Linked DNA regions of Homo sapiens. The protein of the gene in region 2 purifies or fractionates together with the protein of the main gene of each other region. This does not show direct contact. Each region holds a gene or a part of one and is shown on either strand. Other genes may lie near its edges.

Region 1 (15,419 bases), on a different chromosome or scaffold from region 2:
CAGCTTCTTGGGGAGCCCCCTCGTGCCACAAGCCCTGGATCTGGGGCACCCTGCCCTGCTGAGAGTGGAGCTCCTGCTCAGCTCCTAGGAAGGCGAGAGCCAGCGAGGCCACTGCCCAGGCCCCCGAGGGTTCTAGGGGGTCCCATCCCTGGGAAGGCGGAATCTGGGAGGGGAGGGGGACCTAGGACCCCATTGTGTGCATAGCTTGGACTAAGGCATGAGATAAGACCAGGGTGACAGTACAGGAGTATCCAAGAACTGACTTCACCTAACTTCTGCATTTGACTTGTTAGAATTCTACCGAAGTTGTGCTCCATGGGACAAATGTTTAAAGAGAAAACAAACCGTTACATTCCAGATGTAGTTAAAATGTTAAGGGCGTATTAATGAGGTGGCACTGTGGAGGCCTCCTGAGGGACTGGCCTCCAACACTGCATTTGTACCTTTCAGGAGCCATCCGAATACCCTGATGAAATTTAGTTTTTTAATTGTGAAGTTTAATAAGTCAGATGTTAATTTTTAAAAGTCTGGGTACAGTGGCTGATGCTTGTAATCCCAGCACTTTGGGAGGCCAAGAAGGGAGGATCACTTGAGGCCAGGAGTTTGAGACCAGTCTGGCCAACACGGTGAAACCCTGTCTCTGCTAAAAATACAAAACATTAGCCAGGCGTGGTGGCACATGCCTGTAATCCCAGCTACTTGGGAGGCTGAGGCATGAAGAATTGCTTGAACTTGGGAAGCGGAGGTTGCAGTGAGCCGAGACCACGCCACTGCACTCCAGCATAGGTGACAGAGCGAGATTCTATCTCAAAAAAAGAAAAAAGTTAATTTTAAAAACCAACGTAACTGCAAAAAGCCATTGTGCTCTCACAGTCCGATGTCCAGAACGCCAGCGGGCCTGGGCCTGCCCACTGAAGCCACCCTCCAGCTCATTTCACCAGCCTTTCCCCACAAATGCCCGACCACCCAGCAGGTCGCTCTGCCCACCCTGAGCTCTGCGCTGCTGCCACCTCTCCCCAGCCGGAGGAGACAACGGCTCAGGTTGGGGTTTCGGTGCAGGGTGGGGCACACCTACCTGCGCAGTGCAAAGCGCACTGTGTCCTCATTGTGGGAGGCCACCATCACCTTGGCCTTGGCGTTGTGCTTCAGCTCCTCCAACACGTAGTCCAGGCACCTGTGGAGAGTGCCATGTGAGCCCAGTTCCAGGCCTGTGGCTGCCTGCACCTCTCATTACCAGCTGCACAGAGAGGAGGCCGAGGGCAGACCCAGATCCATCCATTGAGCTGGCTCTTTCCAAGGGTATCCACAGGATCAGGAGGAACAGGAGCAGCATCTGCCCCTCCCAGCACCTCATGAAAAAGAAAGACCAGCAACCAAGCAAAAGCGATGTCTGGGACCAGACAATTCACGCAGAACCAGCTGTGGGGGCAGAGTCCCTGCATCAAACGTGCTGTGACTCTGGGGACCAGCCCAAACATGCCCATGAGCCTCATGACAGACACAGCTTTGCTTCTGGGGAGGGATCGTACAGTGCACCCCTGGCCCTGCAAGGAAATAAAAGGGAAGCAGGTCCCTGTAGGGCACAGTGGGGGTGGGCATCCCGGTGCACCAGGAAGCCCGAGCAGTACGGCCCTCCTGCAGCGAGGTCACTCAGCAGGCTTGACCACACGCACGTTCTCTCTGACCCAGCAATTCCATTTCCAGCAACCTAGGACAGCTGCATCCTCAGACACAAAACCCCTGACGGCCCGTGTGTACCACAGAGGGTGACGGTATGTCCAGCGAGTCCATTACAATAACCAGACTAAAAACCAATAAGATCAAAGATGCTGGACACATAGCCCCGGGCACTCCATGCTGGCTGTTGACAGCACCACTCTGCAAGCCCACACAAGAGGACCCAGATGGAACGCGAAATGAAAAACACATCGGGCAGAGGACACGCTACAACGCAAAAAACAATGGCGGAGATGTGTGCGCTGTGGCACGACATGCACAGCGGCTGCAGGAGGGGAGCTGGAGCCAACCAGGAGACACTTGGGGTCTCTCTGAATTTGCAGCATGCACACACGCCTCTAAGAGGAAAAGCCCATGGTTGGCCAGCCTGTGCTACATGAAAAGATCACCAAGAAACTAGAGCAGTAAAAGCAGGTGCAGAACAGCTGATGGGCGATCCCACTGTGTGAACTGAAAAGCAAACAGGCTGAGCCTGCAGGGTGGGGAGGACCGGGTGTTCATGCACATCTCTGGATCTAAGTGTCTGCAGGAGCAAGCTCAGGGAACTGTGGCCAATTTTGCTTTGTTCAATAGGCTTTTCTATATTTATAAAAGAATAACCTTAATGCTTTTGAAAAAGTAACACATGACATAAAAGCTGAGGAAATACCAGTTCTGACCTGGGGACACATGTGGCTGACAAGTTCAGTCTCCAAGCCTCTCCCTCAGGCCTGGTTTCTTGGCGCCCTGCCCTGAGAAGACAGAGGGGTGGGAGAGCTGCGCACCTGTGGTACATGGCGTTGGTGGCCTCGTACGTGGGGTTGATGGGGTCCTCATAGCCGATCTCTGCCGCACGGGCTCGCTCCTGGGCCAGGTATGCGCCCCGCACCAGCTTGGCCCCAAAACACCAGCCCTCACGGCGAGCCAGCTCCACGTCCAGGGTCACATTGTCATAGGCATCCTGTGGGGCCAGGGCCAAAAGTCACAGGGAGCCTGGGCAAGCCCAAGTGACAGCAGGATGGGGCCTTCCTGGGCCCAGGTGCAGTCACCAGGGCTGGGCAGCAGCTGCCTGGGGAGGTGCAGCTCAGGGCACCTGGAGCAGGTGTGGGTGAGGATGGGCCTCCAACCTCTGTCCCCAAGGAGCAATGGCAGTGGGGACGTCTGCAACTTCCTGTGTGGCCTGTGGACGGCCCTGTGGGTGCAGCCCAGGCGCCAGCAGCCATCATGTGCTCCAGACTCCCAGGCCGACCGGGAGGGGTGCATACTGCATGCTCCTGCCTGGACCCCTCCCCATGCCACCCTGTGTCCTCTGGGCATCCGGCTCACCCCTGAGAGCTCTGGACCTGCTAACATCCCTGAGCAGTTTGGGGCCCAAAGGCTAGGGTGGGCTCCCTGAATACATGTGACATCCTGGGTGAGTCTTTCCGGGGAGGGCCCAAAGCTTTCAGGAGGTTCTTAGGGGCGCTGAACTGAAAACACGCTGGAGGAAATGGTCATGTGACACCTTCCAAGTTTGGGGTGTCGGGTACATCTAGTGGACCCTCATAAAGATTGTTGTCTTCCTCCTGCTCCTTAGACACTCTTGGCTGGTTCTGAGAACCAGGGGAGAGGTTGCGGGCAGCGGGTCTTTCTTGCTACTCTGAGGCAGTCACCCTGGCCTCAGCCTCCTCTGCAGGCCTGGCTGTGGCCACCACCTAAGGGGCTCTTTCCTGGACCCTGGGGCCCGCTGGGTGAGCTGTGCTGCAGAAGACCCCAACAACCCCTTGGGGGCACGGCCCACTCCCTCCTCCATCCCATGAGCTCCCTGGTGGGTGCTGAGTGTAAAACCAGCCAAATGCCAGGGAGCTCAGATGAGAGGAGCCCCTCCTGTGGGGTCTCCAAGCCCCAGGGCAGGCAGGGAGGGGCTGAGCGGGGGCTTGCCTTGAGGTAGCACTGGTATGTGTTGAAGATGAGCGGCTTCTCCACATTGAACTTCCGCTGCATCTCCAGCGTCAGGCGGCTGATGGCCGGCTGGAAGTAGGTCTGCTCGGCATCCACCATCAGCCGCACGCCCATCTCTGTGGCTTTCTGAGAGGCGCAGGGGGTGGGAGAGTGGGAGCAACTGTTGCTCAAGTGAGGCAGGTGCCCTCTTCTCCACGAGTCCCAGGTACCCTCTGCCCGAGCGGGACAGCTCACCTTGGCCAGGACATCCATCCGCTGTAGCATCCTGGTCATCTGTAGCTCCTCCTCCTCAGTGAACCGGGACAGCAGGGGCTCCAGCTGTCCTGTCTGGGGGTGCAACACGCGGTCAGGCCACAGCAAGGGCGGGAAAGTGCCACCCTGAGGCCCAGGCTAAACCTCTCTCAGTATTCCCAGCCCACAGGAACCCTCTCACCCGTCTGTGCAGGGCTGGGAGGGAGGGCCACCTGGACAAGCAGCACAGTGCCCCTGAACCTCCAACGCAGCCAGTGCACTGCCCTATGCGGGGCCTAGGGGTACCACGAGGGAGCTCAGTGCCCATGTCAGTGGGCCCCAGGCTCAGTCCAGGCCTGCACTCCGAAGTGTGTACTCCCCAGTTCCCACAGAGGCCCCACCGTTGTGGGAGAGCCCCCTGCAACTCCCATGTGACATTGAACAAGTGAACACTGATCACCCAATCGTCAAACAGAAGGGCTCCACCCGGAGCAGGCAGAGGGCCCAGGAGGAAGACCCCTGGCTACAGGCAGACAGGGCAGTTGTGCAGCACGTGCTGACACGTAGCCAGGGACCAGGGCAACCACCAGGATGAGGCCTTCAAGTTGCTGGTGCTCAGAGGCCGTGGGGACCCATCCCGCAGGGCCTCCCGCTCACCCCTTTGCTGGCCCCAGCAGCCTTGCCTCACTGGGCACAAACAGTACCACTCTATCCCTTGCTACACCATGCTAAAGTCTCCAACAGCTGGTGGCCTTGGTGCACAGCCACACTGTACGCACTGCGCCCCGAGGCTCTGGGTCGGGGGCTCTAAGTTTGAGGCTGGGCCCTTAGTGGACTGGGGCTAGATGTGTCATGGAAAGCTGCCTCTGCAGGATGTTTTCTGAAGGTGCTTCTGTTCTTTCTTTGAATCCCAGTTTAAGCTGTGGTTTCAAGCAGTCTGCCAGGTCCTGGGCCCCCCTCCCACAGGCAGATGAGTCTCATTCCTCTCCCCGCTGTATACAGGCTGGCCTGGTGACATGCTTCTAACAAACAGAACTTGCCAGAAAAGACACCGTGTGACTTCTGAGGCGAGGCAGGAAAAGGTCACCCAGCTTCTGCCTGGCTCTCACGTCTCAGGTGACACTGGCCCTTAGAGCCCAGCTGCCATGTTGGGAAAAAGCCCAAGCCACAGCCAGCACCAACTCCCAGACATGTGAATGGGTGCCTCCCCCAGGTCCCAGCGCCACCACTCTGTGAGTACAGCTACCCAGGAGACCCCAGGGGAGGACTGCCCAGCTGAGCCCTGTCAACCCCAGAACCATGAGGCAGAAGCAGAGTGGCTGCTGCCGTTTCAGGCCTCTGAAGTTTGGGGTGACCTGATGCACAAGACAGATGACTTGGGGAAGGCCCCCAGACCCCCTCTCCTTGTGGTGTCTTAAGGCTCCGCGTGGGTCTCTGTCCCGCCAAGCACTCTGTGGACACTAGTGGGCTTGTCTTCTTCCCCCTGGACCACAGGGGGTCTGTGGGGCCATAGTGTGCAGTGATTTTGGTCATGTTAAGTTCCCAGGGTAGGCAACAAGAGACACACGTGGCAGGCTGAATTCCCTTCTTAGCGCAGCGCCCTGCTGAGCTGGGCCTCACTGAGGAGCGGAGGTGTTACCTGTGCGTTGGGGACTACCAAGTGCTTGGACAGCTTGGTCCTGCTGTCGATGAGGCTGCTCCAGTCCAGCAGGTCCATGGTGCTGAGGGAGGAGGCGCATCAGCAGAGGGGGCACCCCCACCTGTGGGTGCTAGGGTCGGGTGGGGGATCGAGGCCCAAACCTGTCCGTTCACCACCCACCACAAAACCCACCTCGGTGTTCAGTTTTAAAAGACAGAGGAAATATAAATATTGTTTTCTGTTTAAAAATTTAAAACCAGTGGCATGCGGGGGCTCAAACTTATAATCCCAGCACTTTGGGGGCTGCGGCGGGCAGGTCACTTGAGCCCAGGGGTTTGAAACCAGCCTGGGCAACATGGTGAGACCTGGTCTCTATAAAAAATAAATTAATTAAATAAATTTAAAACCAAAACACAAACAGTCCTGCATCTAGGCGGCTCTGAAAACACTGAGTACCCTAGGCTGTTTTGGGCTTGTGGAGGGGCCGAGCACAGGCAGCCAGGCAGGAGGCGGACACAGCTCCGGGCGGCCAGGGAGGACACAGTGGGCAAGGCTGGCAGTGTGTGAGGGGATGGCTCACTACTGCACCACCCCAGTCACCTCCCCACTTCAACTGGAGGCTCCTGGTGATCTGGGTCCCAGCCCCTGGCTCCAAGGATGGGGCATGGGGCTCTGATCCTTCACCTGCCGGCGTGGACTCCAGGGAGGGCTGAGAGTGCCACCTTTGCTCTGGACCCAGATAATTCTATAAAGAGCCCTCTATGGGGTCTGTGCTGGCCCTGTGTCTCCCCTGCCCAGCCCAGCCCCAGCCTCAGGGACTCCTGAAGCCATCAAGTCCTGCTGTGTGAAAAGCAGTTCCTTCAGCACTGTCATCCCAGGGCCCACCCTCTCAGGCAGGGCAGCCAGGACTGGGAGACGTCACTGGGGCTTGGCTGGAACCATGGCTGATGCTCGTGTCCTCTCAGCCTGGGGGCTGCTCTCACCCAGACACTCCCAGGGTCTCTGCCGTGAACCAGTCCTCAATCTCAGCCCTGGATGCGATGCCCAACTTTGCGACACTTTCCTTGAGAAGTGAGAAGGCCTGGATCAGCCCCATTCACTCATATTTTATCCTTCCCCCCACCCATTGGCCTCTGGTGCTGTTTCTGGCTTTATTACATCGTTAGTAAGAACAGGATCCATGTCTGGTTTGTTTCTACTGCATAGACAGGTCTATTCCCACCCCGCTGCTGATGCACGCCCACGCCCTGCAGGGCTGGGTCTCCAGCCCTCCTGCCAGCATCTCCCCTCTCTGTTCAGAGTCCCTCTGACCTCCTCCTCCCCACCAGGCCAACCCCAGCAGCTGCAGAGTGAGCCACATGCCCTGGGTGAGTTCCCAAAACCACCTCCGACCACTGCCCACCATGCCCCGTGTGACCCCACGGTGCCCACCCCCTCACAAGCCACAGGAGTGGGGAAGGGGAAGGCTGCCCCACCTGCAGCACCGCCACCTCCAGCTTGGTGTCCATGGCAGCCAGGCCCGCCTGCCCTTGCTCCACAGCCATTTGGTGAAAGAAGCACCTCCACTTGGCCAGCACCTCTGAGAACTGCAGCTGCAAACGCAGGCCTGAATGCCATCTGCACACGCCCCTGCCCACCCCAGTCCCCCACACAGCCCCTGTGGCCAGCTCAGGCCTCTAAGGCATGGGCACCTGTGTTTTTGGTGGATGCCCACAGCTGCCCTGAGATCTCGCACAGCACCAGACTCTGCAGGTGGAAGGTTCTAGCACTTACCAGAAACTGGGGTCTCCCCAGTGCTGTGAGCTTAATGGCTATGAAGCCGTCATCGCTGACTCTACCTGTCAGAAGCCACAGGAAAAGCCATGACAGCCCTGAGAGGTGCATGGAGGCAGCGCAGGGTGCGACAGGGAGGGCCAGGGCCTGGCCAGCCCACAGCAGGCTCCTGACCCCACCCCACCCCGCCCATGAAGTCCTTGCACATGGCGCTCTAGAGGCCCTGTGGAGATGGGAGGGGGCTCCGTGGCGGGGTTTCTGTTTCCATGCAGGTGTGGGACAGCAGTGGGCACAGGAGCTGCCTGTCCCCTGCCAAGCAGCCCCCACAGGCTCCCTGCCTCGGTTTCCTTCCCTGTGCCACCAGCACCACAGGCTGCTCACACGTGGGTCACAGGACCCAGAAACACCGAGCGTGGCTAAGACAGAGACACCCCAGCGAGGTCCCCTTGCTCAGGCCTCTGCCCCAGAGACCGAGTCTCTCAGGAACCTCTGACGCAAGCGCAGGCTCCTGCCCCCGTGCAGCCAGCCCGCAGTCCCACCCTGTCCTCCAGGCCAGCCCTCCTGCAGCATTCTTGCCCCTGACACTTCTTTCCAAGCAACAACCAGAAATGTTCCTTTAAAGTGAAAGCAGATCTTACCATCTCATCTTGTTTCACGCCACCCCAATGCAGGGCCTTCCCCTTCCACCTGCCCTGGGAGAACAGGCAATGGACGAGGAGAAGACGCCCCTCACCCTGATGGCCCAGCATTCAGCTGGCCACTCTGACCCTCAGCCCCCATCAGGAGGCGGCTTCCAAGCACTGCTCAGAAGTGCCAGGTGCAGCGGCATGCACCTATAATCCCAGCACTTTGGGAGGCCAAAGTGTAAGGTTCGCTTGAGGCCAGGAGTTTGAGACCAGCCTGGGCAACATGGTGAAACACCATCTCTACAAAAAATATGAAAATTAGCTGGGTGTGGTAGTGTGTGCCTGTAATCCCAGCACTTTGGGAGGCCAAGGTGGAGGGATCACTTGAGCCCAGGAGTTCCAGGCCAACCAGGGCAACATAGTGAGACCTCATTTTTTTTTTTTTTTTTTGAGATGGAGTCTCACTCTGTCGCCCAGGCTGGAGTGCAGTGGCGCAATCTTGGCTCACTGCAACCTCCGCCTCCTGGATTCAAGTGATTCTCCTGTCTCAGCCTCCCAAGTAGCTGGGATTACAAGCGCCTGCTGCCACGCCCGGCTAATTTTTTGTATTTTAGTGGAGACGGAGTTTCACCATGTTGCCCAGGCTGGTCTTGAACTGAGCTCAGGCAATCCACCCGCCTTGGCCTCCCAAATTGCTGGGATTAGAGGCGTGAGCACTCCAGCCTGGGTGACAGAGCAAGATCCAGTCTCATTTGAAGCAAACAAACAAAAACATAAACAGGCCTGGGACCCGCTGCCCCTGACGGAGGGCTGCTGGGGCCAGCATGGGGCTGTGCAGGTCGGATGTTTCTAACACTGAAGGACATTGGGCCTTGCTGACCTCTGGCTTCTCTATCCCTGGAAACACCTGCTGCCCCCACCGCTGGCCCCCAGAGGCTGTGTCAGGGAAGGACAGAAGATGCGGCACCAGCTCCCTGAATGGAACCTCCACCCTGGGCTAAGTGTGGCTCGGCAGCTGACATGGACCAACTTCCTGCAGCTCCCGATCCTGGCCCTGAGCCAGGGAGAAGGGTGGGGGGCATGAGGCGGGATCAGGGAACAGGGAGCTGGGGCAGGAGAGGAGATGCCTTCTGGGAGGCAGTGGGGCCCCTCAGGAAGGGGCTGAACAGTGAGGGACCCAAGTGTGGTCAGAACCCAGCCCTCTGGCTCCTGCCCCAGCTTAGTGTTCACCCACCGGCACCTCCATGAGCCCAGGGGTCCGCTCAGGCTGGGACATGGCAGGGGTATAGCCAGCAAAGAGGGGGCCCCACCTGAGGCTTCGATGCAGCGCAAGAATGTCTCCATGTGGCTGTCGCACTTGGCCTCATTGGCGTAGAAGTAGGTGCGGGCACTGATGACACCATTCCTGCGGTCCCCGAAGGCCCAGTGGGCCTGGTATTGCTTGTCCCGCTTATTCGTGCCTGGAATAGCGAATGCACGGCCTGAGCACAGCTCCAAACACCCACCCCCAGCACCCACACACCAATAGCCCAGGGCCCCTGCCCTCAGGAGGGCTCCAAGCATAGTGGCCTTGCCAGCCTGGCCCTGGCACTGCACTGCCCCATGGTTCCCATCCCCAAGCCCACCCTCCTGTCTACACCGCGGCTCTTCCACCTGGAGTGCTGCATCCCCCTGGCTAAGCCTCCTCATGAGGCCAGGACGGCAGTCTCCTTAACAAAGGCCTAGGTCCACCAGGAGGCCATGAAAAAGGAGCAGGGCGTCTCCCCAGACACTTGCGAGTATGTCAGAGCCCAGAGCGACAGGGCAGGTGCCCTGGACATAGGGAGGAGCCCGGGCTCCGACGTCACCCCAAGGCCCACTTGTGCCCCAGCCTAGACTCTCCTGAGCCACCAAGGGGTGTGCGGAGTCGGGAGGGAGTCTGTTCCTGCGCGGCAGCCTCTCACTCACCACTGCCATCCCTCTCCGCAGCTGAGGTGCAGGACCTGTGGGAAGGAGGGGGAGAGCAAAGGTCAGGGTCACGCCACCTGAGCCTCAGGTGACAGGCACGTTCCCACTGAGGCTGCACGGAGGGCCCCACCACAACCCCGGTGGAGGGTAGATTCCAAGGTGCAGCCCCAGCCCCACCCCTAGCCTGGGGTGGAACACTTGGGCCTGGGAGGGGCAGCAGTTTATGGGGCTGCTGTGTCCCAAGGGCTCAGGAAGCCCGGGGCTCCTTGTGGGTGGAGAAATCAGAACGATATTCCTGAGCTCTCAGAACAGCCCAGGGCTTGCAGCAGGTTCTCAAATAAAGGTAGTTACCTGGTTCCAAGACAGAGCCAGTCAGGGCTGAGAGGAACGGAGGCGGGAAGGCACCAGCACACAGAGGTCCCCAAATCCCCAGCGAGGCCCCCTTACTCAGGCCTCCACCCCAGAGCCAGGGTCTCCCAGGCAGCTCTGATGCAAGCACAGGCTCCTGCCCCCGCACAGCCAGCCCTGCAGTCCCGCCCTGTCCTCCAGGCCGGCCCTCCTGTAGCATTCTTGCCCCGACACTTCTTTTCCAAGCAACAACCAGAAATGTTCCTTTAAAGTGAAAGCAGATCTTACCATCTCATCTTGTTTCACGCCACCCCACCCAGGGTTCCCATCATTTCCTAGTAATGCCCAAAGTCCTGGGCCCCTGGCTTGGGCACCTCAAGACCAGTGAGGCCAGGATGCAGGCTGTCCCCCGCTAGGCTGGCCACACTCTGCTCAGCCAAGCCCCTGTCCTTCCTGCAGAAGCCTCTCCATCCCCGCCTGGCCAGCACCCCCATTCCCCCTGGCCCCTCCCTTCTCTAGGGTACCTGGCTCCCCTCCCCCACCAGCCCTGCACCCCTGCCAGAGCCTCCTCTTCTTCCTCCTCCTCCCCACAGCCACAATCTGCTTCTGGCACTTGGTTTCAGTGCTGTGTCATCCAGGCTAGCAAGAGTTGCTGCGGCCGTTAAGTCTGCTGTGACAAAGCGACCATGGTCTCCCTGGCCCCCGGAGCAGCTCTGAGGGTCACCTGACTTTATATTCAAACCTGATCAAGTCAGTGACCACGGAGAGAGCTCAGCTGCATGACCAACAGCACCCAGAGCCTTCCTGAAGCTCCCCAGAGGCGCTCGGACCCTCAGGGGCAGCTCTGCCCACACTCACAGGAAAGGAGAGGGTCCCCCTCAGATGCCGGGAAGGGGAAAGGCAGAGCAGTGGTCAGTGAGCCGCATCCCAGAGGCCTCCATGTCAAGGGGCCTCAGCTGCCCACTTTCCACCTGGCTGCTCAAGGAGCAAGCCCTGGGCCAGGAGCCCCCGCCAGGAGGCCTTCCCTCCCACCCACTCCTGGGCAGCCCCACATGGGCCAGGGACTCCACATGTGCTGCCAGGGCCCCTGAGGCTGCAGCCCAGTGATGGGAGCTGGCAGGCAGATATGCTCTGGCCACCTTATGCTGACAGAGATGTGACAGAAGAGGGTGGAATGTCACCATGTGACTAGGGAACAGGCAGGCAGCACGTGAACCCCTGCCTGAGACAGGGAGCTCCTGGGCCCCTGGCTTGGGCACCTCAAGACCAGTCATGAGATCAGCCCTAAGACCTTCACGCCAAGGCTTAGGTACAGCCAGGAAAAGCCATCCCCAAGGGGGACTCACTGTCTATGTTAAGGCCGGGGTGGCAGCCAGGGCCCTGCCCAGGGCAGAAACCCTCATGGCAAGTAACAGCAGACAGTGGGGACAGGGCCTCAGGGGCCTCCATGACCCTGAAGAGAAGGTCCCATCCTGAAACCACACAGCCCACAGTTTGGATAACACGGGACTTAACCACACAGGTGTCTGCCTGTGAGGCAGCTCACCTTCATGAAACAGGATCATTATCTGACAGGTCCCCAGGCAGATGAGTTCCCGCTCAGCATTCCCACAGCTGCTGTGTTCATCCTCTGAGGTGGGCCTGGCAGGAGAGGCTGGGGAAGCCAGGGCTGCTCCCTCTCCTGCTCTGACACACTCAGAGGCAGAACACCATAGGCTACCGCTGCTCCTCTCCGTGAACTTCCAGAGCACAGACCAGGCTGACACAGCCAAGCAGTGGCCAAGATGACCACACAGCACGTGCAGTGGCCAGAGGGGCAGCCAGGTCTCAGAGTGGATGGCTACGCAGCAAGGACAGGGCCACACTCTCCAACAGGCATCATGGATAAGTCACAAGGAGACACAAATGGTGGTTCCCAGGCAGGTCAGGGGTCCTATTTCCACTGGAGAAGAGGAAGAAAGCACCCTGGGAGCAGCTGATTCAGAACTGCGGGTGCCACACAGGAAATCTGGCTTTCGCCACCTGGGACGTTGCCACGTCCTGGCTCAAGGCACCACAGGGAAGAGGGGGGCACATGGCACTGGCAGCTGTGGGGTGTTAGAGGAGGAAGGGTGAACCAGTGGATGTGGGGCCCTGATCAGGGTGGGGACCACATCCCAATGCCTCCTTAAAGCCAGGACCTGCCTCGTGCTCCCCCAGTCCCACCCCTCATCATGCCCAGGGCATAGTCTGTTGAAGGGCACATGATCGCACACATGGGCACGACCTGGGACAACAGAGGAGGGAAGAGCGACAAGGGGACATAGGGCAGAGGAGGACAAGCACGTGTCCCCAGGGGGTCTTCAGAGACAGCAGGAAGACCCTGACCACCCCCTCAGCCTCCACCTCAGCTCTGGGTGGCTGTCCCTGGGGACGTGATGCCTATTGAAACAAGCAGAGCATGGGGGTCCACACCCCGCCCTTGTCCAACTCTCTCCTGGAGGGAAGCCTGGCAAGCCGCTTCCTACCTGTACCCCCCTCCCCAGCTCCCCAACCCTCTGCCTCCCCAGCCCCTCGCTCAGGACACTCACTGCACACATATCCTGCCTCCAGCCAGCCCTGGGCCTGCACAGCCAGACCAATGCCCCCATCCACCCCCTAGGTGTTCCCTCACAGCCCAATCATCAGGAAGATGCCTTGGCCCCTTCCCCATCCCCAAGCCCTCAGCCTGCTTCGGGGATCCCTGGGACTCCTCTCCTGGGGTTGGGTGGGGCCCTGGCCTCTGGGAAGCATGGTCCACCCCCCCCCCGGGTGGGCATTGCCCTCCTGCACCTCCAGGCTCCCACCTCCTCTTTCTTTCTCGGGAGCACTGCTGGGACTCACTTTGCCATGCACTCAGACGCCTCCATCCTCCCTGGGCCTCTCACGGCCAGCACCACTTGCCATGGCCTTAATTTGGGGCGGTGGCCTCAGTGTCTCTCCCCAGAGTAGAGCCCATGGCCCTTGTGACAGGAGGGTAGGTTAGGAAGGCAGATCTCTAAGCAGTTCCCTGCACTAGGGTCTGCGTGACTGGTCACTCCTGGCCAAGCAGGCCATGCTGCAGTGTGGACATCAGACCAGTGCTTGCAGACCCAGCCCTACCCCCATGGCTCAGGCCCCTCTGAAAGCACAAAGCAGCTGAGCTCGGTAGGTGTCCTCAGCATGCACCCCTGTGAGGACAGGAGGGAACCCTGTTCACTTCCCAGAGCTGGAGCAGGACCCCTGCAGACAGCAGCCACCAGCAGCAAGACAGGTGAATCCCTTGCAGGGCAAAGGACTCAAGCTCCTAAGGACACAGGTGCCCAGCCCCCTGGCAGAGTGCAGGCCAGTCCACCTCCAGACACTCAGCCTGCAGGGCAGGGAGGAAGCCAGGCAGGACCACCCTGGGAAAGGAGTCTTTTCATACCAGAGGCGCCTGAGAGGAAAATCCCATTGTGAAACCAAGTCCCCACCCAGACTCCTTCTGAGAACACACAGGCCATTGGTTATTCAACAGGCAGCTCAGCAAAGGCTGCAGCCAAGAGCTCAGGCAGCTGCAAGGCCCACGGGGCCTGCTAGGAACACAGTGGGGTGCTGGGGCTGTAGTACCCCACCTTCAAAACAGCCAATCGCAAGGCAGGGGCTGGGCTCCCCTGGCCAATCCTCTCCAGGCAGCTGGCAGCCGACATGCTGAGGCAAGCCTCAGACATTCCGTTCCCAGGGCTGGAGGCCTCATGTGACTGCCTTTCCCTCCCCTTCCCAGGCCAGCCACCAGGGGAGGGGCAGGAACAACCACCAAGGCCTGACCAGGTCCACAGAGGGACTGTCCCAAGCCTTATGTGGGTCAGGCCCGGCTGCTGTCAGGGTGCAGGGGACCCAAATACATAGGAAGACATAGGGAGATCCCATCTTTACAAAAAAAAATTAAAACTTAGCCAGGTATGGTGGTGCGTGCCTGTGGTCCCAGCTACTTAGGGGGCTCAGATGGGAGGATCACTTGAGCCCAGAAGGTTGGCTGCAGTGAACAATGGCACCACTGCACTCTAGCCTGGGCAACAGAGCAAGACCCTACTTTAAAAAAACTGGTTGAAAGAAATCAAAACAAGAATAATATTTTGTGACACAAGAAAATTATATGAAATTCTAATTACTATGGCCCTACTGAGGCAGAGTGAAGCCGTTGTGGCAGGGAGGGTGTGGCCCGACTGAGAGTCTGTGCTACCTGGCTGTTTACACAAACTTGCTGACCTGATGGAGGAGGCTCTGCTACAGCCTCTCTTTTGCAGGGATTCCTGACCCGCAGGCAGGTCCCACTGCCCGACCCTTGCCTGGCCTCAGCCTGCCCTGCAGTTGTGGAACCTCCCAGGCCTGGCCCCTGCCCCATTGTCAGTGGAGAAGGGAATTGAAGCCAGGAGCAGTGTAGCAGGCCGGCCTGGAGTCAGCTCCTGGAGGCCACTAAGCTGATACAAGGCCCCTTCCCTGGGCAGTGAGTGTAGAGGGCAGTTGGTACCACCCTGACCCGCCCTCCTGGGCAGGGCATCAGGACAGAACAACAAGACCACGTTTCCCTCCACTTCCTGGAGCAGTCCCTGGCTCATGTGAGATCCAGGCGAGACCAACCATTCTTTGCAGAGTGCTTGGTTCATATGCTGGTGCCTGTGCTCCTCCAGGCGGTGGACTAGATAGGGCCAAGGGCCATTCTGTACTCTGCTTCCTCAGGCCTCACGCACACCAGGCCTCCCATGAAAGCCCAGAGCTGTCCACCGCATGAAACAAAAATGCAAGAACTCCAGGCAGAGCCCAGGAGGGTCATCGGTAGTTGGGCTGACCAAGCTCTCCTAGCCTTGGCCTCTGCCCAGCTGAGGCTGAAGCCCAGCAGCTGGATACATCCCACCTGCTCCCACTGGGTGCTCCAGGGTCATGATCAGAAAGCCCGCAGACACCGGGCAGGCCTTACTCCATCTCCTTGTGCTCTGCCTCCTCGGGGCTCAGGTCCTCCTCCACTCCATAGTCCAGGATGGCGCTGACACCGAAGGCCCTGTAGTGCCGAAGCAGGGGCTGGATGGACTCCTGGTCCTCCCCGGCTACAAAATGCCCATAGAAGGTCATCTTCATGAGCTTGTTGAATAGCCTCTGTCCTAGAAGTTTCCTGGAAACATACAGCAGCTGAAAGGCAAAGGGAAGCCGCTGTCCTGGGCTGC
Region 2 (14,484 bases):
TCCTCCCTGATAAAATAGAAGGCATGGATTTACGTTCTCCCAGTATACAACCAGCTGAGCACTGACTTTACTACCTCCTGGCCACTAAAAGTATATTTAAAATCTTGAGGGTTTTTTTTTTCCCATATTACATTCCTAGAGGACAGAAAATCTTTCTTCCATAGTGTTTAAACCTCAGCATATTGCTGTTAGTATTTCTGCTTTCTAATACTATAACATAACGTGGAAACCTAAACCCTTCTTGTTCCATCTTTATCACATTCCTAATAAATATGTCACTCCTATCCTTTCCCAGAACTAGAAGAGAAGGAATAGTTCTTGTCTTATAAAACATCATAAGTCATAGTGTCAGGGCCAGGAAATTCGAAGTATTTGATCATTATCTAAAAACAAAGTTTAGGAAGCTCTCAGGATTTTTTTAAAAATCCCTAAAACAGGTTCTTAATCTAGAGTCAATGCATGTGAATCCTCTAGAATTATATGAAAATGTTATGTGTACACGCATATATGCATGGGGAGGGGGAAGAGGTCTACAGCTATCATCAAACTCTCAGGGATCGATGACACAAAAAAGAGCTAAGAACCTGTGTCCAGGAGCAACAGAAAAGACCTAAATTTCATTTCAACAAAAACCAGAATGACTAGGAAATCATGAATACAAGGCAGAGCACATCACAGAGGTAAAGACTGAATTAACTTCCACTTAACTCATCCTCCACATTCCCACTCCAGTGCACTGCCACCAATGACAACATGCCCAGCCTGGAACCCCTGCAAAACAACTTTTCTATCTCAGCAGCTAAAGTAGTAGGCTTAACCTAGTAGACAATCAGAACTACGGCTGCTTGACAGAGAATGTGATTGTTTTTCCTGTGGGGGAGAAAAAAATATGTCAATTTCCTTCATTATTCCAGTCTACAAATATAAAATGAACAGAAGTACCAGGAAGGAAAAATTTAGAATGTAAATAATGAAATTCCTTATTAAGTCTGATTAACACAGTCATTTCCCCTAGCTTTTGAAGTGTGCCCTTGTGACTTGTGACATAACTTTATATATATATGCATATATATATGCATATATATATATGCATATATATATGCATATATATATGCATATATATATGCATATATATATATGCATATATATACATATACGTGGTGATCTTTCTTTATGGCATCCTCAAAGCCTTGTGTTTGGAGGATGGTGTTTCCGTCACATTTCCCACATGCTGCTCTTATGGGGACAGAAGTGGTCATGGGATGATTAAGCTAGTCCTAGCCGGACAAGAGCTCCACAATGCCAAAGGTCACAAACGCGAATAAAGTCGCCACTTTCATCTCCCTTATAGGCACTCCCCAGTGTACTCTTAACAGTTGCCAAAATTGGGTTTACTATTCTAGCCCATTCCTTCGGAAAGCCCGGAAGCTCAGAACCCTCAAATTGATGGGTTTTGTTTGTCTGTTGGGTAAAGGGGGAGGAGTTTAAAATGTGGCCAGGAGTAACGGGCCCTATAAAAAGGCCTGACACATTGGGCACCAGACCCCGGCTGCCTGCTCCCACCACACGCGTCCCGTTCTGCGTCCGAAGCTTCTACACTTCATCCTTTTCTTTTTTCCTTCAAGGCTGCCTCTAACATTCACATTAACGAGATTCACGGGTTTATTTCTCTTGAGTGGAGGGGCGCTGAGCGGCATCCCGGCGGAGGGGTCCCTTGAGAACCTTTATCTGCACCGAGTCCGCTCCTCAGCAGTGACCCCTCTGGGCAGTTCCTCCGACGCCCTGCAGAGGGCAGTAGAGGCCCAGAGAGCATCCCGGCTGGGCCCCGCCCGGTCCCCCTGGGACAGCGCGAACCCTAGGTCCCACCACAACCATAGCCCCACCCCAGGAGCCGCCAGGCGTCCCGCTTCCACCCGCCCCAGCTATAACAGCCTTCGCTGTCCGCCTTCCCATTTCTACAGCACTGGCTGCACTGGGGCGCGGCTTCAAGGGGCAACAAAGCCGGCCACCAGCGGCTTCGTCGCACCAAACAGGCGACCAACGAGTACCTTCACTCGAGCCCTACCATCCACGCCGGGCAGCAGCCAGCGGACTGCGCACGCGCGGCCCCGCCCACCCCTCCCCCGGAGGCCTGCCCTGGACCCCGGCAGCGCGCGCTCCCTCCAGGGAGAAAAGGCCAGCGCCAGGGCCAACCCGCAGCGTCTGAGCAGCCCCTCGCTGGCTTGCTCCTGCCCGGACTCGAACGCGATTCCACCTACCGTCAGCGGCCGCGAGAGCGCCCACTCTCTTAGCCGCACGCACGCTTTCCTGCCCGCTCGCGCAAACCGAAAGGCCTAGAGTAAGAGGCCGCTTTCCCCCCACCGCAAGAGGAGGCAGGGTCTTGGGATACAGGGGCGGGGCCTATGCCTGGCGTGGGCGGGGCTTCTGGGCCTGGGACACTGATGAGAGGAGCGCCCCAGTGGCCAGGGTAAGTGGAGGAGAGGCCGGGCAGCCGGCTAGTAGAAGGGTAGTGGCGCGTCTTGGAGTCACGCTGGCCGAGTGGAAAGAATAGCGGGCGAGGCGCAGGAGAGGGGAGCCCAGGTTTGGATTTGTCAAACTTGAGTCACTTCTCTTCCCTCCCCTACCTATCCGGTCTCTTTTTAACAAAATAAGGGATTGAACTTCTGTAGATGATCTCTCAGGTCCTCCACCAGCACTAGAGTTGTTGAAGGAAGGAGTCTCCCAGGCATAAGTCCCATAGTCCGACCTCATCCTTTACCTCTCCTGCTTCATTTCTCCATCATCCCCGTACTTATACTCCCTCACTACTGAGAAATTTGAAACCCCTCACCTATCTTGGACTTTGTACAACCCATGGCTTTGCTCAAGCTGGACCCCGAACCTGAAAACTTCTCTGCATCCATTTTCCAAAACCAAAAATCCTCATTTGTCAAGGCCATCCTCATTGCTTCTTGCATAAAGCCTTTCCCACTGTCCCCAATCAGAATTCATTATCCCTTCCTCTTTGCTCCCACGGCATTATTTTAATCTTTATTACAGACTGCTTTCTGCTTTGCATTTTCGTTAGTAATTACAAAGGTCTTTTTAAACCGTAAATGCCTTGAGACGGCATGGACCCTGTCTTATCCCTGTAGTTCCAGGACCTTGCACATGGGAGATGCTCAGTAAGTATTAAAGTGAATGCTGGGGTTCAAGTGGCATTGATAGTACACAGGCAAAATCTCAATCATTCATGGTCCACTAAATCATGGCCTCTGCTCTGGAACAGTTAGGCCTAATTAAGACAAGGAAAGGCAACCCACCCTATTGGGAAATGGAACCTCTAGACAGTCCCATGTAATACACACACACATATCCTCTGCCTACAAGAAAGAACAGTTTGGGAGCTGACTCTCCAGCAGATGAGAGTTAGGGCTAAATTAACCAGGGCAGAAGTAGGCGTTCTGGTCATTTCTGGGACCTAAACCCTTCTCTGCTAGATTCAGGGCATGGCTCCCCTGAGCCAGGCAGCAAGTCTGCCATCTCTTCTGGCTCAGAGGAGCCTCCTTCCTCATCCCCAGGGTCTTCAGGCAGTGGGCAGAGGCAGTGGAGAGGCTGGGGGATGCAGGGACAGAGGTTTTGGATGGGGAAAGGAAGTCTGTACACTTGAGCAGCCTTCTCCCTGGGCTTCTGAGGCATTCGAGCCTCTTGGGCAGTGAAAGGAGATGGTAGCCCTTGACCTAGGCCTCGCTCAAGCTGTGTGCCTGCAAAAGAGAGGTTTGTCAGGCTATTGCCCATCCCAGGGAGGGATGGCTTCCTGGCCACTCCCCAGTCTGCTAGGGCCTAGCCTCAACTTACCAGGAATCGTGTTCTCTAGTAGGAAGCCTGAGAGTCCAGCCAGGAAGATGGGCTGTGTCAGCAGTGAGTGCAGTAATACATCCAAGGGGCTCCAGCCTATGAAGAGTTGGGGCCAGGCAGGAAGGGAACTCTGATCCTATATCCAAGCCCAGGAGTCTTACCCTCCCAGACCTAAACCTAAGCCTTGGACTAAGGACAGATCTTTCTGAATTGTCATTTCATCCCTCTCACCCTTTGTCTTTCTACTCTCCACTTTCCAAATCCAGGCCTTTCCCACAGGATTCCTGCTCAACACCCTGTGTTCTGATCATCCACACACCCTCCATATATGCTTTGACTATTCCAGGTTCCCTTTCTCTAGAAAGCGTAATATTTAAGTCCCAACCTCATCTCCCATTTTTTACCCTCTATGCTCTATCCTGGGTTTTTCAACCTCAGTCCTACTGACATCTTGGACCAGATAATTCTTTGTTGGGGGTGGTGGTGCAGGGGGGATGTCCTGTACAGTGTAGGATGTTTAGCAGCATCTTTCTATCCACTAAACCCTAGTAACAACTCCCTCTTCCTCCATTTGTAACAGCCAAAAATGTCTCCAGACATTGCCAAATGTCCCCATGGGGGCAAAATCACCCAGTTGAGAACTGGGTGAGACAAATTAAGCAATTTACTGCTCTCAGGACATATCCTAAGACTTCCCACTTCTGTGTCTTTGCATAAATGATGGTTCCTCCATCAGGAATGACCTTCTTCTCACCAAAGATGTTTAAAACTTACCATCCTTCAAGACCAGCTCTGTTACTGGATCACCTCAAACAGAAGCTATCTCTCTTGCCACTGAGCACTGTAGCTCTTTATCTGAACCTTTCCTGTTATTTTCCTACACATCTCATCTCTTGTACTACGCTGTAATAACGGAAGGCATCTTTGTATTCCAAATGGCTAGCATAGTGCTCAATAAATATCTGTTAAACAAATGGATGAAGTATTTACACCAAAGCCCAGAGAAGGCTGTGGGGCCAGGAGTCCGGGCAGCCTGAAGCCTCAACTTGCTTTCCTGCTACTGAGCAACGCCTCTTCCCTTCCACCTACCTGTGCTGAACAGGACTGGGGCTTCCCGAAACCATCTTGGCAGCAGCAAGGCCATGAAGATGGAGAAGCCCACAATGAAGATATTTCGCCCAGAGTCTATGTCAGCCAGGTAGAAGCTGGAGAATCCAGCAGACAAAACCACAGCCTGGGTCACCCCCAGCACCCCACCTGTCTCATACAGAAGAAATCAAGGGGGTCAGGAGGAGTCAAGGGGGCTCACATAGCATGGAGTATTGCAGGGCAAGCAGGTTGTAATGGGAAACAAATAAAACCCAAGAGAATGATTTTTGTTTTTTTTGTTTTTTTGTTTTTTTGGTTTTTTTTTGAGAGCAAGTCTCACTGTAACGCCCAGCCTGGAGTGCAGTGGTGCAATCTCGGCTCACTGCAACCTCCGCTTCCTACTCCCGGATTCAAGCGATTTCTCCTGCCTCAGCCTCCCGAGTAGCTGGGATTACAGGCATGTGCCACCACGCCCAGCTAATTTTTGCACTTTTAGTAGAGACAGGGTTTCATCATGTTGGCCAGGCTGATCTCGAACTCCTGACCTCAAGTGATCTGCCTGTCTGGGCCTCCCAAAGTGCTGGGATTACAGGTGTGGGCCACCACGCCCAGCCTGAGGCTGATTTCTGATTCTTCAGGAAGCCCAGAAGCCCAATCAAGAGAAGACCAAAATGTTGGGCTGAGAAATTGAGGCTGACACATGCTCATATCCATCCATCCATCCATCCATCCACCCATCCATCCAGGAAAGCTATTTAGAAGGAAAGGGTGCCATCCTAAAGAACTGATCAGGCCACACTGGGGAGTAGCAGTTCAATACCAGCCCTGTTGATACATCCACTCACCAACAACAGGCAGTGGGATGGTGGTGAGGAGCTGAGCCAACCTGGGGGAGAGTCCAAGCCCCACGCAGAGTAGCCCCACTAAGTGAGCCACTTGCTGAGATCCAGCCTGCATGAAGAAAAGACACTGGAAAACACAGCCACTTCCTCAGACTGTCCCAGGTCTTTGCCTTACTGGTTCCTTCTCATCATTTGGATCCCAGCTCAAATGTTACTCTTCCAAGAAGCCTTCCTGGCCAGTCTATCTAAACGTGCCTCCTTTCCATCCCACTACCCTGATTTTTTTATATAGCACTTATTGCCTTCTGAAATTTTCTTCACTTTTCTTTTTTTAATTTTTAATTTTTTGAGATGGAGTCTCGCTCTGTCGCCCAGGCTGGAGTGCAGTGGTGCGGTCTCGGCTCACAGCAACCTCTGCCTCCCAGGCTCAAGCGATTCTCCTGCCTCAGCCTCCTGAGTAGCTGGAATTATAGGTGCACAACACCATGCCCAGCTAATTTTTGTATTTTTAGTAGAGACAGGGTTTCACCATGTTGGCCAGGCTGGTCTTGAATTCCTAGCCTAAGTGATCTGCCTGCCTCAGCCTCCCCACGTGCTAGGATTACAGGTGTGAGCCACCATGCCTGGCCCACTTTTTTAAAAAGATACTTTTTTCCTTCAACTGTCTGCCTCTCCCTCTATGAAGTCCCCAAGAGAGCAGAACTTTATGTGACTGGTTCTTTGCCCTAGCCTTGATACAGTGCCTCATGCACAGGAGTTCCGTGGTGATTTGTTCACTTCCCCACTCTCTTAGCCCAAAGTCTAATCTTAGGCACCTCCCCAAGTAAGATAGTTGATGTGAGGTGCTAGGCACACCTGGCAATCAATCGGTGTAAGTTCCTGTCCTTCTTCTTCCCCTCTAGCTCCATCCTACCCCACTCCCATCCCAGGTCCACGTACCTGGATAAGACCCACTTTGCCCACGTTGGGGAAGCTGGATGCAGTGCCCATGGGGCTTCCCAGCAGCCCGGCCAGCACACTGCCCAGCCCCTCCAGGCTCAGCCCTCGACTGCAGGCATGTGGAGGTGGGGGAGGCAAATGCAGCAGCCGGCCACACAGGGCATAGCAGCCCAGGGAACTGGTGGAGGCTGCCAAGGCCATGGAGATGCCTGCAGCCAGAGCTCTGGGCGTCAGCAAAGGCCAATTCCACTCACCTGGGGAGGGAGAAGAAGCCACTTTGGGGCCAGACTCAAGTCAGGAGTACCCCCTGCCTCCAACAGCCTGTGCCACAAGAATCCTAGATGCCTCAATGTCTTTGAAGACAATGTCTTGGGACAAAACTACTGAACTCTAAGGAGAAAGACCCATGCCTTTACCATGGTCTACAAGGTCCTCTTTGGTCTGGCCCTTCCCTCTCTCTGCAGCCTTATCTCCCAGCACACTCTGCCTCACTTCCTTCATTCCTGCCACACTGGCCTTGTTGTAGGCCTTTGTACATGCTGTGCTCCCAGCCACCACAGGGCCTTTGCATATGCAGTTTCCTGCAACTAGAATGCGCTTCCCTCCTGCCTTTGTCTAGTTAGCTCCTACTCATCTCTTCCATCTCAACTCAGTGGCCACATCCTCAAGAATATCCTTACTTAGGCGGGGTGCAGTAGCTCACGCCTGTAATCCCAGCACTTTGGGAGGCCAAGGCAGGTGGCTCACCTGAGGTCAGGAGTTTGTGACCAGCCTGGCCAACATGGTGAAACCCCATCTCTACTAAAAATACAAAATTAGCCAGGCATGGTGGTGCATGCCTGTAATCCCAGCCACTTGGGAGGTGGAAGCAGGAGAATCACTTGAACCCGGAAGGCGGAGGTGCAGTTAGCCAAGATCACACCATTGCACTCCAGCCTGGGCGACAAGAGTGAAACTCCATTTCAAAAAAAAAAAAAAAATTTACTGACCTCCCTGATAAATTCAAATTCCCTATTATAAGTTTTTTGGTTTGTTTGTTTGTTTTGAGACAGGTCCTTGCTCTGTTACCCAGGCTGAAGTGCAGTAATGCAATCATAGCTCACTGCAGCCTCAATCTCTCGGGCTCAAGCGATCCTCCCACCTTAGCCTCTGAAGTAACTGGGACTAAAGGTGCATGCCACCATATCTGGCTAATTTTTTATACTGTTAATAGAGACGAGGTCTCACTATGTTGCCCAGGCTGGTCTCTAACTCCTGAGCTCAAGCAATCCTCCCACCTCAGCCTCCCAAAGTGCTGGAATTTCAGGTGTGAGCCATGGTGCCTGGCTATTTTATTTTATTTTATTTTATTTATTTTATTTTAATTTATTTTATTTTATTTTTATAAACAAGGTCTCACTCTGTCGCCTGGGCTAGAATGCAGTGGTGCAATCATAGCACACCGCAGCCTCCAACTCCTGGGCTCAAGTGATCCTCCTGCCTCAGTCTCCTGAGTAGCTAGGCCTACAAGCATGTGCCACTAGGCCCAGCTAATTTTTTTATGTTTTGTAGAGTGGAGTCTTGCTTTATTACCCAGGCTGCTCTCGAAATCCTTGCCTCAAGCAGTCTTCCTGCTTCTGCCTCCCAAAGTGCTGGGATTATAGGTGTGAGCCACTGTGCCTGGCCTCCATTATAAGCTCTTAGGACACAATGTATCTCCCTTTGGTTACACTTCCCACAATGGCAATTTTATATTTCCTCGGGTGACTCTTTAATTAGTATCTGTATTCCCCAATAGACTGTAAGCTCCCTGAAGGCAAGTACTGTTTCTGTCATGTTCATCACTATGTCCTCTACCATGTGCCTAGCACATAATCAGCAGTCAACAGATCCTTATTAAATTAATGAACAACCAGCCTGGACAACATGGCGAAATCCCGTCTCTACAAAACAACACAAAAATTAGCCAGGCATGGTGGTGCACGCTTGTAATCCCAGCTACTTGTGGGGCTGAGGCACAAGGATAGCTTGAGCCAAGGAGGTTGAGGCTGCAGTGAGCCATGTTTGCATCAATGCTCTCAGCCTGGGTAACACAGCAAGACCCTGTCCCAAAAAGTAAATTAAATAAATAAATAAATTGAAGAATGAGCAAATTTCACATACAATGCCTCAAAAGCAATCTTTATACATAGGTTGCCAAGTCAAATGCCCATAGGGGCTGGTAACATAAATGTGTTCATTGGGTAAGGAGTATTGGTAGTGAGTATCGGGGGTTACAGAAACAACAGATGTCTGTCTCCTAACACTGACCCAAATAAAACACCTGCAGTGGGATGGGGCACAGTGGCTCATGCCTGTAATCCCAGCATTTAATCAAGCAGATCACTTGAGCCCAGGAGTTTGAGACCAGCCTGGGCAACATGGTGAAACCCTGTCTCTACAAAAAAAAAAAAAAAAAAAAAAGCACACCTGTAGTCCCAGCTACTCCGGAGGCTTAGGTGGGAGGATCACCTGGGCCTGGGAGGTTGAGGTTGCGTGAGCCATGATCACGCCATGCACTCCACCCTGTATGACAGAGTGAGACCCTGTCTCAAACAAACAAACAAAAAAACACCTACAGTGAGGGGCTAGCATTGTCTGTCTCTCAGACTGATAATTTCTCTCTCCTATATGTTTTCAAAAAACACAGGATTTAACTCAGAAATAAAATCCATTAAGTTCTTTGAGTTCAAATAGATACCTTTATTTGAACAAGAGAATGGAGGACTAGGAGAAAACCTACCTGGGTGAGGCAGCCAAATCCATGGTGCCTTGGTGGGGGCAGACAGTTCCTGGGGGATAACACTGAATCCCACAAAGGCAGAAACAATCCACACACAGGCCACTGGGATCAGCACCTGAGGGGCGAGACTGAGAAAAGAACTCCTCCCCCAGAACCTTCTGAGCCAGCCTTGCAGGGGTAGACAGAAGCCAAAAGGTAGGGGATGGAGTGAGCACTCCAGGCCAGCCCTTCTGACCTCTACTGCCCTGCCCAGACCCACACATACCGAAAGGAGCCGGAAGACAGGGAGAGGAGTGTGAGTTGATGACGTTGAAGCTCGCCTCCAGGGGCACACATGAAACTGGCAGGAGCCCAGGTGCTGAGAACAGACCACCATGAGCAGGATAACCCTAGGAGACAGAAGGCTTTAGGAGCAAGAGGCAGTGGGTATCCTGAGGGATGGGAAAGGAGGTGGGAGTGGGCAGAATATCATAAGAGCGGGGGGTGATACCAGAGAAGGAAACTCCCATGGAAGGAATAGGAAGTGACCTTGGGGGACAGCAGAAAACAGTGTGAAATTCAAGGAGACCAGATGAATCAAGGAAAAGTCTTGGATTCCAAATATAAAATATGTCCCTATTCCAGTCGCTGCTGAATCTGATAGGACCAGCAGTTCTGCCCTCCCCTAGTCCCCCCATACACCCCCACTGGGCACCATCCCACGCCTCTCAGGACTCACGTACAGCAAGGCCAACCCCCAGTGTGTGAAGCAGAACTGGGCTACCTCCCTGTGGGCAGAGAGCCCTGCCACAACCAGGCTGGGAGCCAGCACCAGGGGCCCACAGTGGGGGAACACGTGGCCGGGACTCCCCAGCAGCCCCATCATGCCCTGCAGCAGCCCAGATACTACCACTGCCCCGGACACCTGGTAGAAGAGAGGAGAGGATGGAGAGAAAACATTCTGCTCAATCAAACTGGCCTCAGCCTGGTCTTCCTAATTCTAAGTATGGGTTCCTCCCAAAACTCCTTTCCAGGAGCATCTCAGTCTGTGCATAATGGAAACAAGAGCCCCCCCCAAGCCTGGCACCACCCTTATCCCTTCTCACCTCCAGATACCCACCTCCTGGAGAGAAGTGTTCCAGTGCCCCAGGCCATGGCAGCTAGGTCCCCTACAAAGGTGCAGCATGAGGGAGGCTAGGAAAAGTTTGGGGCATGGAGAAGAGAAGGGTGAATGGAATGGAGACCCATTGCTCTACAGTCCCACTCCTGGCACAGGTCCAAGCCCCCTATAGTGTCACAGTCTCACCACTGCCCAATCTCAATTCTGCACCCACCTACACCTGCATGCTCAGATGAGAACCCAGCCCCACCCTTACCCCTTGCCCTTGCTCTGTGCTCACAGTTTCCAGGTGTCTGGATGGCCCGGGGTAGCTTCTGGCTGGTCAGCACCAGAGCAGGGATAAGGAACTCTAAGGATGGAGCCTGGACAAGAGGCAGCCTGTAGGAACAGCAGCCCCAGCAGGTCTGGGACTATGTGGCAGCCAGCAAGGCTCCCCCAAACCTCTCCTACCCTCCAGGACTCTGCCCCTCTCTCCAGGGAGGTTCCTCTCACCTGCTGCCCATCCAAGTTTGCAGGATGGTAGACATACCACATGAAAAGAAGCTGGAGGCCAGGAGCTGAGAAGGGGAGTAAGAGAGTCCTCCTGGGGAGAGACTGCAAAGCAGGAGCAGGTGGGAGACACAGAGCAGAGAAGCCATGACCAAGACATGCTGCAGGTGGAGGAATGGGGAGGGCAGTCTTCAGAGAAGTGGAAATACCTACAATACTTCCAGAGGCTTTCACATGCCACATCTACACCTACTTCCCCACACACACCATCAGGCAGCACCAACTCCTGCACCTCTGCCTCCTACCTGCAGAGCCAGAAGACAGCTGAGGCCCCAAGGCAGAGATCCACACAAAGGGTCCCAAGAGTGGGTGGAGGGATTCTGGGGAGCAGGTGGAGGCAAGGGGGCCAGGGCATCCTGGGAGCCCACTGATCGGAGTTGGCTGGGATTGAGGGGTGATCGGCTCATGCTGCCTTGCCTTTCGCTTTGTCTTGGCTGCCCGGGACCAGAGTTAAGTAGAGAGAGTAAGAGGTCAGAGTTTGGGTGAAGCCTGGGGTGGGGAGAAGGTGGGGAGAGGGTGGGGGTGTCAATGAAGCGGAGCAAAGGTATAAGGAATTTGGGGCAGGGCACCACCCTTTCACCTTTGCCCAGCTGTTGTGCAAATTCCATCAGCCATTAACTGGGGAGCTGAGTTCTGGGGCCCTCCCCCGAGAATCTTCTTCCAGATTTCCTGCCCCTAGACCAGGCTGTAGAAAGTAGGATAGGAGGGGTGGGGAGGAGAGGAGCTCTTCAAAATAATATGGGGAAATTTTGCAGACTTTATTCCCTCCCATTTAAAACTATCACTATTTGATCCACAGTCCTCACCCCTTTCAGAACCAAGGCCCCTGGACTACTTCAAAATGAAACTTGTGGGCTCAGTATGGTGGCTCATGCCTGTAATCACACCACTTTGGGAGGCCGAACTGGGTGTATCACTTGAGGTGAGGAGTTCAAGACCAGCCTGGCAACATGGTGAAACCATCTCTACTAAAAATACAAAACTTAGCTGGATGTGGTGGCACATCCCTGTAATCCCACCTACTCGGGAGGCTGAGGCACAAGAATTGCTCGAACCCAGAAGGCGGAGGTTGTAGTGAGCTGAGACCGTGCCACTGCACTCCAGCCTGGGTGACAGAGTGAGACTGTGTCAAAAAAAAAAAGAAAAAAGAAAAAAAGAAACTTGTGGACAATATATCCTACATCACATGTGACAACCACAACTACCTGAAACATGCTCACTGTAAAGAATAAAATTTATAATAACATGTATTTCATTACGTGAAGGCTTAAGCACAACTAAACCAGAAGACAATAAAGTACAATGAAGTAGTCCAATCCCACACCCTATGAGAATTGCTGTGGTTGCAATAGCTGCAATGCCAGCTGATATTGGTGCTTTATCGGTGACTCTGATGTTGGTAACCCGATTTTCAAAATGGCAAACAAACTCTTGGTTAAGGTGCCAAGCAAAATAAAGTCGTCTTAATTTACATGGGAATGAATTCCTAGCAAACTGAGTCTTTTCAAAACGCACAAACGCTATTTCACGTTTACATGTGCAAAGACAGTTCTAGGCTCAGATAAACAGGGTTTTCATATACATAAAGCTGGTCATTCAAAAGTTGTCTTGGGAATTCTTCACAGTACGGGAGGTCTGAGCATTTCATGATGTCTAGCATCCCGCCCAGGTTGACGAAATGCCAGTAGCACCCCATCCCCTTGAATCCTTTTGACAATGAAAAAATAGCCCATAAATTTCCAAAATGCCCCCTAGGGGGCAGAACCACTTCTTCCGTGAAGTATCCTCAGCAGTCCCAAATACCCTCAGCCAAGCTGCCCAGACTGTTTTCCTTCCTCCAGTGATGACCCAGCCTTGGAGTTCTTCAAGTTCTTGGAATTGTTAAGCACCATGTGACCATCACCATGTGTCAGACCAGTGAGGAGGTCAGGAGAGAGAAGCGTCCTCGTGGCTTGCCCTCAGGAGCTCACAAGGCTCTGCTGGTTACAAGGCCTGGCCCCTCTCCACGAGATGTGCTTTGGGATCCACAAGGAGAGTGCTTACCCAGAACAAGTGACAGACAAGGCCAACTCAGGGACAGGACAGTCACCATGTGTGTCCCATGGCATCCCAAGTTGAGCAGTGCTAGGGCCCAGGGTCCTGGGAGCAGGAACAAAGTTGGAAATGGAAGCCTATGCCTATCAAACGATAGGAAAGTCCTGAGATGAGGCTGAGAAAACAGTTTGTGAGATGACAGGATCAGGAAGCAGGGAGGCTTGGAAGGCAGATACAGGGAGGAAAAATCTTCAAGGGCTGCCGCAGAAGGAAAAGTCCAGGCCATGCAACTGAAACTGTTTATTGAAACCTCAGTTCTACAAAAGCGTGAAAAACCCTGATACAAAGCAGTGGCCAGAGAGGCCTGGGAAGAGAATACCTGGGAGAAGAACCAGAAGAGAGGGAAACCTAGGAGCAGGACACTAAGAGAAGACTGGAAGACAAAAGATCAGGGTTGAAGGTCCCAGCAGTCCTTGGCTCCATTAGACTAAAGCTAAGGAATGGGAGTGAAAAGGGTTCCCTGCCTCACCCAGCAGCTCCCACCTGAACCCATCAGTCCCCGGCTCTTCTGCCTCAGGGACATCACACAGGCCCATGCCAACATTTCCTTTCTCCTCTCACCCCACTTCCCTTATCTCCCACCTATACTCTTCCATCCTAGGGAAATCAAAAGTAAAAGTCTAAAAAATCCCAGGGAGGCAGAGAGGGGCTTCTATGTCCATCTGGGACATGTCCCTGGTCACCAAGCGGAAGCTCTCCCTGGCGGCATCACTGTCCTGGCCAAGCAGCCAGCCACTGCGATCTAGGAGTGAATTACCTTCAGTCCTTCTGCCCCACCACCCCATAAGCTCCCACCCAGGAGGACAGGGGACCTGCCAAGGACCCAGCGAGGCAGACAGGATCTGAATCAAGCTTTGCTCCTCCAGGTTCTCAGAAACTCCCAAACCCTCTTAATGCATTCCTCACAGCCCTACCTAGCCTGGGAAAACGAAAGACTTGAGGCGAGCCAGCTCCATGACACTGAAAAGGGAACATTGCTGAGGCTGAGGAAGTGAAAGGAGCACCGGGCTCCAAGGCCAGGGGGGAGCCAGGCCATAGGTATGGTACCAGGGGCTGGACAGCGCAGTGGGGACTGTACGGTTGGGGTGGAGGCAGGCATGGCAGGTTGGGGAGTCTCTCTGGAGCTTCTGGCAAAGGTGGCAGTTATGAAGAAGAGTGGGAGGGGCAGGGGGGTCTGGGGGAGGCAATGGTGGAGGAGTCAGTGAGGCCAGAAGACTGCCCCAGAGTGACCGCAGCCCCATGCTGCCTTCCAGGCAGCTGGAGACATTAGCGAG

What was found.
Region 1: the proteins of SLC23A3 (region 2) and PRODH purify together in Homo sapiens (affinity purification with mass spectrometry; 2 studies listed by BioGRID and IntAct, with this or other methods). This does not show direct contact.

The regions. Positions count from the first base shown.
Region 1 is NC_000022.11:18,915,815-18,931,233, forward strand, and holds part of PRODH (proline dehydrogenase 1, mitochondrial isoform 1 precursor), read right to left. Parts: intron 15,385-15,419; coding exon 15,176-15,384; intron 9,909-15,175; coding exon 9,874-9,908; intron 9,387-9,873; coding exon 9,237-9,386; intron 7,366-9,236; coding exon 7,301-7,365; intron 7,120-7,300; coding exon 7,003-7,119; intron 6,591-7,002; coding exon 6,511-6,590; intron 5,610-6,510; coding exon 5,528-5,609; intron 3,985-5,527; coding exon 3,892-3,984; intron 3,784-3,891; coding exon 3,637-3,783; intron 2,678-3,636; coding exon 2,502-2,677; intron 1,175-2,501; coding exon 1,076-1,174; intron 1-1,075. UniProt on the Homo sapiens protein: Converts proline to delta-1-pyrroline-5-carboxylate.
Region 2 is NC_000002.12:219,158,462-219,172,945, forward strand, and holds SLC23A3 (solute carrier family 23 member 3), read right to left. Parts: upstream 11,569-14,484; 5' UTR 11,524-11,568; coding exon 11,362-11,523; intron 11,218-11,361; coding exon 11,060-11,217; intron 10,946-11,059; coding exon 10,848-10,945; coding exon of another isoform or gene 10,824-10,847; intron 10,642-10,823; coding exon 10,568-10,641; intron 10,373-10,567; coding exon 10,191-10,372; intron 9,858-10,190; coding exon 9,734-9,857; intron 9,584-9,733; coding exon 9,469-9,583; intron 6,962-9,468; coding exon 6,708-6,961; intron 5,878-6,707; coding exon 5,772-5,877; intron 5,095-5,771; coding exon 4,927-5,094; intron 3,934-4,926; coding exon 3,838-3,933; intron 3,744-3,837; coding exon 3,448-3,743; 3' UTR 3,004-3,447; downstream 1-3,003. Other genes in the region: protein CNPPD1, read right to left, coding at 14,125-14,484. UniProt on the Homo sapiens protein: Acts as a sodium-dependent hypoxanthine transporter. May show xanthine-hypoxanthine exchange activity.